Linked DNA regions of Homo sapiens: region 2 is linked to region 1. Evidence: fine-mapped expression QTL. A gene starts in region 1. The other region holds a variant in brackets. All regions are shown on one strand. Distances are between the middles of the regions.

Region 1 (4,388 bases):
AGGCTGAGAAGTCCCACAATAGACCATCTACAAGCTGGAGAACCAGGGAGGCTGGTAGACTGCTTCAGTTCAAGACTACCCTGTCTTAGACTTGGCCTCAGAACCAGGGAAGCTGAATGGTGTATCTCCCAGTCCAAGGCCCAAGCCGGGAGAACCTGGGGAACCACTGGTACAAGTCTTGGAGTCCAAAGGCTCAATACTTGCTAAATGAATAAATGGACGGACTCTACTACCTAATCTCCTAGAGTTAGGAGATTAGGGGAACGGGGAATTCTGATGCCAAGGGCAGAAGAGGGGTGTCCCAACTCCAGAGTAGAGAATTTGCCTTTCCTCTGCCTTTTTGTTCTATTATGTGGTGCCTGCGCATATTAGATGAGGACAGATCTTCCTTACTCAGTCCATTGACTTAAATGCCAATATCTTCTGGGAACACCCTCATAGACATACCCAGAAGTAATGTTCCCCCAGCTACCTGAGTATCCCTTAACCTAGTCAGGTTGACATCTAAAACTAATCATCGCAAAATCCTAACCAAGTCTCAAAGGTGCCTCAAATTCAACTTGTCTAAGATGGAGCTCAAGATCAATCTTATCTCCTCTTCCAGTGTTCTCCATATCTGTGAATCCCTGCACCATCCATCCATTTATCCAAGGCTGAACAGTGGCATCATCCTTGAAGCTGCTTCATCGCCCCTTCACATCCAACTCATCACCAAGTCCTATTGATTTTGCTCCTACATTTCTCTGCAGCCTTCTTAGATCTCTTTTTCTTCACTCTCACCCTAGTCCACACTCCAGCTCCATTCTCTCTTGCCCAGATGACTGCACTGGCTCCCAGGCCAGTCCCACCATAGCTCTGTTGAGACTTCTCCATTTTGATCTGCACTTTAGCAGCCAAAGTGAGTTTTATAAAATGCAATTTTGACCAGTGTTCTATGGTCCTAAACTTTCCACTATGGTCCATAAAATCCTACATGGTCCTGCCCCTTCTATTCGCTCTAGTGGATCTCACTCCACTCCTTTATTCTCTAAACTCTGAGTTTCTTTTCTTTTTGTGGTAAAATGTACATAACCATTTTTAAGTGTGCAGATCTGTGGCATTTGGTACATTCACATTGTTGTGTGATCATCACTACTATCCATTTCCAGAACTGTTTCATCTTCTCCAGCTGAAATTCTGTACCTATTAAGCACTAACTTTCCATTTCCCCCTTTCTGGGTTTCTTTTCATCCCTCAAAGGAGCTCTGCTGCCTTCCACAGAGTTCTTATATACATGCTAATCTCTCCATCTGAAACACACTTCCTCTCCCCTTTGCCTAGTTAGCCTCCTGTGATTCCCAACACCAGCCTAGAAGCTTCTGTAAATTCTCCCAAAACCCCTGCTCCTCCCTGAAGAGCAGTTTGTATTTATACAGGTGTTTGATTGTTTGAAGGGTGCTCTCACCCTGCCTCCTCTCTTAACATAGTTTTTCGTGTCAGGAATTCCTCGCTTTGTCCACAACCCCTGGCACATAGCAGGTGCTCAATACTTGCTAAATGAATAAATGGACGGACTCTGCTACCTACCTAATCTCCTTCCAGCCAGTCATCCATCTGTGGGTGCCTCGGTCCCCAGCTTGGGGTGTGTCCCCCTGGGTCGGACTTTGGCGCCCCATCCAGGCTGGCAGTAGGTTGTGCTCTTTGGTTTGCCTATCTCGGGCCTCCCGCCCAGCCGCGCGGACCGCAGAACATACGCCCCGGGCGTTATCACTCTGTCACGCGGAGCCTCCCCGCCTCCAGACGTCAGTCCGGTTGCTACCCCGGCAGGAATCGAGCTTAGATCACGAAGGCTCCTTCTCACCTCCGGACGTGAGAATTACAGGCTTGGATCTCAAACCGCCGCGGTGAGAGCCGGGAGGTGGGAAGAAAGTTGGGAGGCGCGCGCCCCCGTCACACTCCCTCTCCGTTTGGGTCGCAGCCCTTTAAGAACCACTACGTTCGCGCCTTCGCCGGGACGGGGGCTGTGGAGGCGCGCCGGGATTGGTCGGTTTGGGTGCGGGTGTCGCTTAGCAGCAGCGAATGCGGGGTAGGGGGGAGGTGGGGTGGCTCAAGACTCGCGCACGCGCACCACGGCCTACCTGCGCCTGGGCTGCCGGTGACCTGGGCCGAGCCCTCCCGGTCGGCTAAGATTGCTGAGGAGGCGGCGGGTAGCTGGCAGGCGCCGACTTCCGAAGGCCGCCGTCCGGGCGAGGTGAGGGCTGGCGGGCGGAGGCGGGTGCCGCGGCCCGTTAGCCAAGAGCAGGCGGGTTAGGGTGTGGCGCAGGGCGGGCCCAGAGGTGGAGGCGGCCCAGGGCCCACCCGGCCCTCAGTCCCGGCCTTGACCATGGGGCTCCCCACGGGGCTTCACTGGGCTTCTTGGAGTCCTCTGTCCCCTTTCTCCCGTCAGCCTGTTCCCGGACCCCGGGGCCACCCAAGGCACGCGCCTGCAGGAACCCTGGGCTGACAGATGGGCGCCAAGGGCTTCTCCCAGTTGGAAGAGATGGGGAGTGAGAAAGGGGACGATTGTTTCTTTAACCATTCACGAAGCTCACGTCAGAGCATTGTTTAATCTGAATAGCAAACTTCCCTTAGCATGCCCGTGTTATTAGACTTTAAATATTGGATACACTGAACCAACTTTTCAGAGCACTAGGTGTAGGACGTTCCATTACAGGTTTTGTGTTCATTACAGATTTACACATGTACCTCCAGAGCCAGAAGGATAAAGCACTCGGGGAAAAATTAGGTTTGTAGAAATAAAAGCCACGGAAGACTATTGCCAGTGTGAAAAGTAATTGGTGAAATTTGTGACATGGTCAGAAAAAAATACAGCTCAGAACCAACATATAGGGTAATATTTAATTACATTTTGCAGAGAAGAGTTGATCCCACTAAAGATAATTTTAGTAAAATGAAAAATGGAAGCAACTGGAAATGGTTTAACGTTGCCAGATAGAATTAAATAAACAAATAGTGTTTCCTCTGGAAAGTACATTTTGGACAATGTTAATAGCTCTGATTTAAGTGTTTGCATTTGCAACAGAAGCCATCTTGGAGTCAGTGTTTTTTATTCTTAGAATAACTTAGAAATCAACTAAATTCAAAAAGTAACATGATCATAGAGAGGACAACCTGACTTCAAGGTAATACAGTGGATAAAGAGCAGTTGTAACAAGTGTAATCTCAGGCTCCTTCCTCTACCAACAGGTCTCTGATTAGCTTATTAGTGCTCTAAGGAGAAGAAATTATTTTAGAGAAAGGGAGTAGCTGTAATTCCCAAAGTTGGATTTGTAGAAGAAGGATGTGGTGGAAAGATCCTAGGCTTTAGAATATTTGAAGTAAGGAAGTCTGGGTTGAATCTAGCTTTACCTCTTGAGCCTTACAGCTGCAGTTTTCCCACCTATCCGGTATAGATTATGTCTACCTTATAGTTACAAGCATTTAATAACATTATCAGTGTAAAAGGTCCTATCAAGTTTAGTTCCCTACCCCTCTTAGTTCCTAACAAATGACGAAACTGACCTCTACCCTCCTCTTCACTCCATCCCCAAGCAACTTGGAGCCTTAATAGAATCTACAGATTTGGTAACCAGTTCTCAAGTCCTGTGGCTGAAGGTGAATTCAGTAAGGGTGGCACAACTCAGTTTTGTCTTCTGTATTGTGTATTTGAGTCTTCTGTATTCTGTATATACTTTATGGTGAACACTTTGTGTTTGAATATTTGTGTGCCAAATGAAGCCTGTTTTGTCTAAATTCCTATTTTGCAAGGTGCAGTCATCTCTCTCTTTCTCTCTGTTTTTCTCTTTCTTTCTGTCTCTCTCAGCCTCTCTCTCTCTCAGTGCATGTGGTAGGGGCTTGAGGAGGGGTTAAGGGTAAAAGGTGGAAGAAAAAACAGGATCAAGGGTAGCCTGCAGCATAGGCATAAAGTCTTTGTTAATAGAACAGAGATAATCTATGACATGAGCAGTTTATAAACAGATGCTGGGAAGAAGATTTAGGAAATAAGGGAGGCAAATTAAAATATGTTTTTATAAAACCTAGTAACACGGATGCTGTGTATTTGATTACTACTTCACTCTACTTTTAGACAAATTTCATCTGTATAAACCTTTCTCTTTTTCTCTCCAAATACAGATTTATTGTGGAAAAGTGTTCAAACTGTAGATCAGAACTATGGCAAGGGATCTGTAAACCTGCATTTCTTGTTTCAGTGAGCAAAAATAAGGCAGCCCTTAGGTCATTCATTCATTTAACTTAGCAGTGTTTACTGAGTGCTTCCTAATATGTACCAGGCAAGGTGGTAGGTTATGACATCCACTGCCTTGTGGAAGGATCTGGTAAGATCTGGAAGACATTCCAGTGTCTCTTGT
Region 2 (4,388 bases), 88 kb before region 1:
CAACCTCTTCTATAAGGGCCAGTAATCCCACTCATGAGGCAGAGCTTCCTGACTTAATCACTCCCCCAAAAACCTCACCTCTTTATACTGTGGCATCGTGTTTTAGGTTCCAACAGGTGAATTTGGGGTTTGGTGGGGGGACACCAGCATTCAGACAATAGCACCATCTTGACCTCATGACCTGTGGCTAAGTAGGATGGAACATCTTCCTGTTTTGTCTTCCTTGATGTGTATATTAATAAGTCAGGGCTCTGCAGAGAAACAGAATCAATAGAATAAAGAGATATAAGAGGGGGTGTATTATGGGCATTGGCTCATGTGATTATGGAGGCCGAAAAGTTCCACAATCTGTCCTCTGCAGGTTGGAGACCCAGGAAAGCTGGTGATGTAATTCAGTTTGAATCTGAAGGCCTGAGATCAAGAGGAGGTGATGATGTAACTCCCAGTCCAAGGCGAAACGCAGGGGAACCTGGAGTTCTGATGTCTGAGGGCAGGAGATGATGGATGTCCTGGCTCCAGAAGAGAGAGTGAATTCACTTTTCTTCTGCCTTTTTGTTCCATCCAGGCCCTCAATAGACTGGATGGTGTCCACTTATATTGGATGAGGGGGGATCATCTTTACTCAGTCTACTGATTCAAATGGTGATCTCTTCCCAAAACACCCTCACAGACACACCCAAAAATCATGCCCTTACCAGCTATCTCGGTGTCCCTTCATTCAGTTAAGAGTACACCTAAAACTAACCATCACACTGGAAAAGATGTATGTATATATATTAATTTTTTCCCCTCATAGTCTCCTTCTGTTTTATAAAGAGCCTGGTTGCTGATGGTTCCATTTAACAATACAGTCCCCACATTTCAGAACACCAAATGGGATCACAGGAAAGGAGCGGCAATTACCAGCAGATCCTGGATTTGGAGCCAGATGCAGTCAGTGATGAGAAATTACAGTGTCCCCTTTTGGGAAGAGGATGAATACGTTTTTATTTATTATGAGGAAGGTTGTTAATCAATAGCATTTTGTTGTTCCTGTTGTATGGAAGAGGGTGTATGCTGTTGTTGGGCTGTGAAGGGCTAGATTGTGGGGCATGTTTGTTATACTTTGTGGCCACCCAGCATGTTTGCAAAGCCTTTTTCTGATTGGGAATGAAGTACATAGGGCATTCCACCTACCCAACATAGAAAACACAACTTGCTTCCCCAGCCTCCCTTGCAGCTAGTGAAGTAGGAGGTTGGACTCAACTCTGGAGGCGGGGCTTGGACACCAGACCTAATGAGGACTAGCTGAAACAGGGATGGAGTGGAAGCAGCAGCTTTGCATAAGACATGCCCACAAGTGTGCCATGTCAGTTTACCATTGCCATGGCAACACCTGAAAGTTACTGCCCCTTTCTATGGAAGATACCAACCTTTTCCTAGAAATTTCTGCATAATCCCCCCTTAATTTGCATGTAAGTCAAAGTGGGTATAAGTATGACTGCAGTCCTGCCTCGGAGCTGCTATTCTGGGAACACTGCCTATAGGGTAGCGCTGTTCCACAGTACCAGTACCTCTGCTGCTGCTTCACTAAAAGTCGCTAACACCTCCGGCTCACCCTTGAATTCTTTCCTAGGTGAAGCCAAGAACTCTCCCAGGCTAAGCCCCAATTTTGAGACTCGCCTGTCCTGCATCACTAGGGCATAAACGTGACAGATCTGACACTTAGACACACCCACATAAGACTGATTCAGGTAAGAGGAAAGCAATGAAATATACTGCAGACTTGTGTTCTCTGAGGGTGGGGCAGAGAGGGGTTTAGTTTTGGTGGGAGGGGCAGTCGAGACAGAGCTTCTTATGAGTAGCCTTCAGCATTGTTAGTTCCAAGCTGGGATGACAGTCACGCCTCCCCTAGGGCAAGTGGTGCAGGGTGGTTTGGGTTTGTTTTTGGCTGCATAACCCCAAAGGCTGAGTCTCTGGTTCTCCTAGAGATTTAATTGGTTCTTCTGTTTGCAACCAATAGCCCTGGTTCACCACCCACTGCCATGCTCTCCTGAATGCCACTGTGTACCAAGTACTGTGCTGAATGAAGGGGACGTGGCATTGTTCAGAGCTTAGAGAACGTGGCTTTGGGATC[G/A]GACAGACTTGGGTTCGCATCTGGCTCCACCACTTTCTGGCTGTGTGCAAGTGGCTTTACCTCTCTGAGCTCCTTTGCTTAGGTTATCAGCAGTCTCAGAAGGTTATGGTGAAGAGTGACCACAAAGTGTCCCCAACACATGAGAGTTATAGTCTTAGGCCACAGCTTCCCAGGTACACAGGCATAGTTTTGGCCACAGGGGTTTCCAGAAGCCCTATCTCTAGCTGGAGAGAGGCGGGAGTGATGGGGAAGTTCAAGGTGGGGTCCTTTGGAGCTGCTTTTCCTTCCCTGTGTGGGATCCCATTCTCTTCTCCATTCTCCACAGGTCCCAAGGCTGTCATCTGTGGTGGCAGGAGGTTCATCCCATCTGCAGCCAGTGGAACCTTAGGAGGCAGTGCTCCTCTATTTTATTGCTGACCCTCCAGAGACTTTAGAAAGCAGCTCTACAGGCTGGATACCTCTCAACCTGACCTCTGGAGACTGCAAGGCCCAAGTGTAGGAAAGGATATGGCTACTCACCTATCTTTTTTTTTTCTTTGAGACAGAATCTTGCTCTGTCACCTAGGCTGGAGTGCAGTGGCGTGATCTCGGCTCACTGCAACCTCCGCCTCCCAGGTTCTAATGATCGTAATGATCCTTTTGCCTCAGCCTCCTGAGTAGCTGGGATTACAGATGCATGCCACCATGCCTGGCTAATTTTTTTTTTTCATTAGAGATGGGGTTTCACCATGTTGGCCAGGAAGGTCTTGAACTCCTGACTTTGAGTGATCTGCTCGCCTCAGCCTCCCAAAGTGCTGGGATTACAGGCGTGAGCCACCGTGCCTGGCAGCTACTCAACGATCTTTCCAGCTCTCCTCTCCTTCCGGCCACACAGGAGGGTTGCGTGTCCACACCCCCCTGAAGTAAGGCATGATGCCAGAACTTGCTTTGGATGATGACACAGAAACAGCAGTGATACACCACTTCTGGATGGCAGCACTGAAGAGCCAAGGTGTGATTCTCCAACCTGTCTTTTCCCTGGCTCTGTTCAGTCTAGAGGCCCATGTTGATATGGAGGTGCCCCAAGGTCAAAGCCTGGAATTCTGGGCCACCAAATAGAGAATGACTGCCCTGGAACATCCCCTCAGAGCCACAGATGTTGAGTCACTGAGGTTAGGAGGTGGTTTGTTACTGCAGCAGAACTCAGCCTAACCTGACTTATTCACCAGTCCTGGTTCTAGAAAGCTACATAATCAGGGGGTAGGTAGGCCCAAAAGCACCACTAAGCCAGGGTGCCTCACCTCCCCTCATTGATCCTTTAGAAAGAAGGAAAGTCCGGCCTTCCCCAGCAAGGCAGTGCTGCTCTGACCTATGCATGCTTCAGGACATGAGATGTTAGTGAGCTGCTTGGTCCCAAAGAGCAAGATCAGGGAAAGTGAGTGCTCCAGAGACACCAATCGTGGTGCCCACCATCCCACAGCCACCCAGAGGCCTCTGCCCCAGAGCCTAGGATGACAGTGTCCAAGACTCTGGAGTGTGAAGGTGGAAATGCTGTGAGAATGAGGGAGGTGGGGGGAGGGCTGGAGGAAAAAGAGGTGTCATGCAACCTGATATAGGAGGAGGTCAACAGAGTGGAAACACAGAGATGAGTGGAATCTGCACAAGAGTTGGGGGAGCAGCCAGGCCCCCAGGCCTGTCAGCCAGCCTTGTTTCAGGGTCTCTTGAGCAAGCCTGTGTTTCTTCCATTCATAGCAGGACTGTGCAGAAAGGCAGTGCCAACATCCTAGGAACCTGCACCTCCTTTCTGGCCAGTCAACAAATCCACCCATGAGACTTCTCTCCCAGTCCCTCCCAGTCCTGTCTGACCCTTTTCTACATATACAGAGTTAAGTGCCACAAGGAGGCTCATTCTGCACGTGTCCCCGGGGCCTAGAATTCCATTTGGCATGGAGTGAGTGCTCTCTGTATATACTACTTGTGCCATGAAACAATTCTGAGTTCCCCAGGGAGAGCCATCTGCTCCTCTGGAGGCTACCACCTGTCTTCCATCTGAGCTTTTGTCTTCCCGGGTGCCTGAGTCAGCATCTCTGTTATCTGGCCCCTTCTGACCTCCCCTGCCTGCCGAGGGAGGAATGAGTCCATACTGCTCATCACAGCATCCCCAGGGCTCAGCACATAAGTGGGAGCACCGGTCCCTGCTGTCCCAGAGCTACTGTGGCTCCATGCCTGGTGCTCATGGGAAACCACACCTGCACAGGCCCTGGCCTCTTGTGGCCATTGCCTTCAGGACTTC

Evidence for each region. PIP is the estimated chance that this variant, and not a neighbour inherited with it, causes the effect. A credible set is the group of variants that fine-mapping cannot tell apart.
Region 2: its variant is the best candidate, but not a certain one, in a credible set for the expression of SEC22C in testis (GTEx, PIP 0.87).

Annotation. Positions count from the first base shown.
Region 1 is chr3:42,579,688-42,584,075 of GRCh38, reverse strand. It overlaps SEC22C (SEC22 homolog C, vesicle trafficking protein), which reads left to right and starts at 2,109. Exons shown (of 7, transcript NM_032970.4): 1 at 2,109-2,230. It also overlaps a transcript of SS18L2 not described here. RefSeq lists enhancers at 1,694-1,823, 1,816-2,642 and a silencer at 2,024-2,353.
Region 2 is chr3:42,667,756-42,672,143 of GRCh38, reverse strand. It overlaps LOC124906232 (a long non-coding RNA gene), which reads left to right. Exons shown (of 3, transcript XR_007095893.1): 2 at 1,616-1,733; 3 at 2,442-4,388. Among named protein-coding and RNA genes, the nearest start is that of ZBTB47-AS1, 16 kb to the right of the region's middle. The variant G/A (reference allele first, on the strand shown) is at 2,117.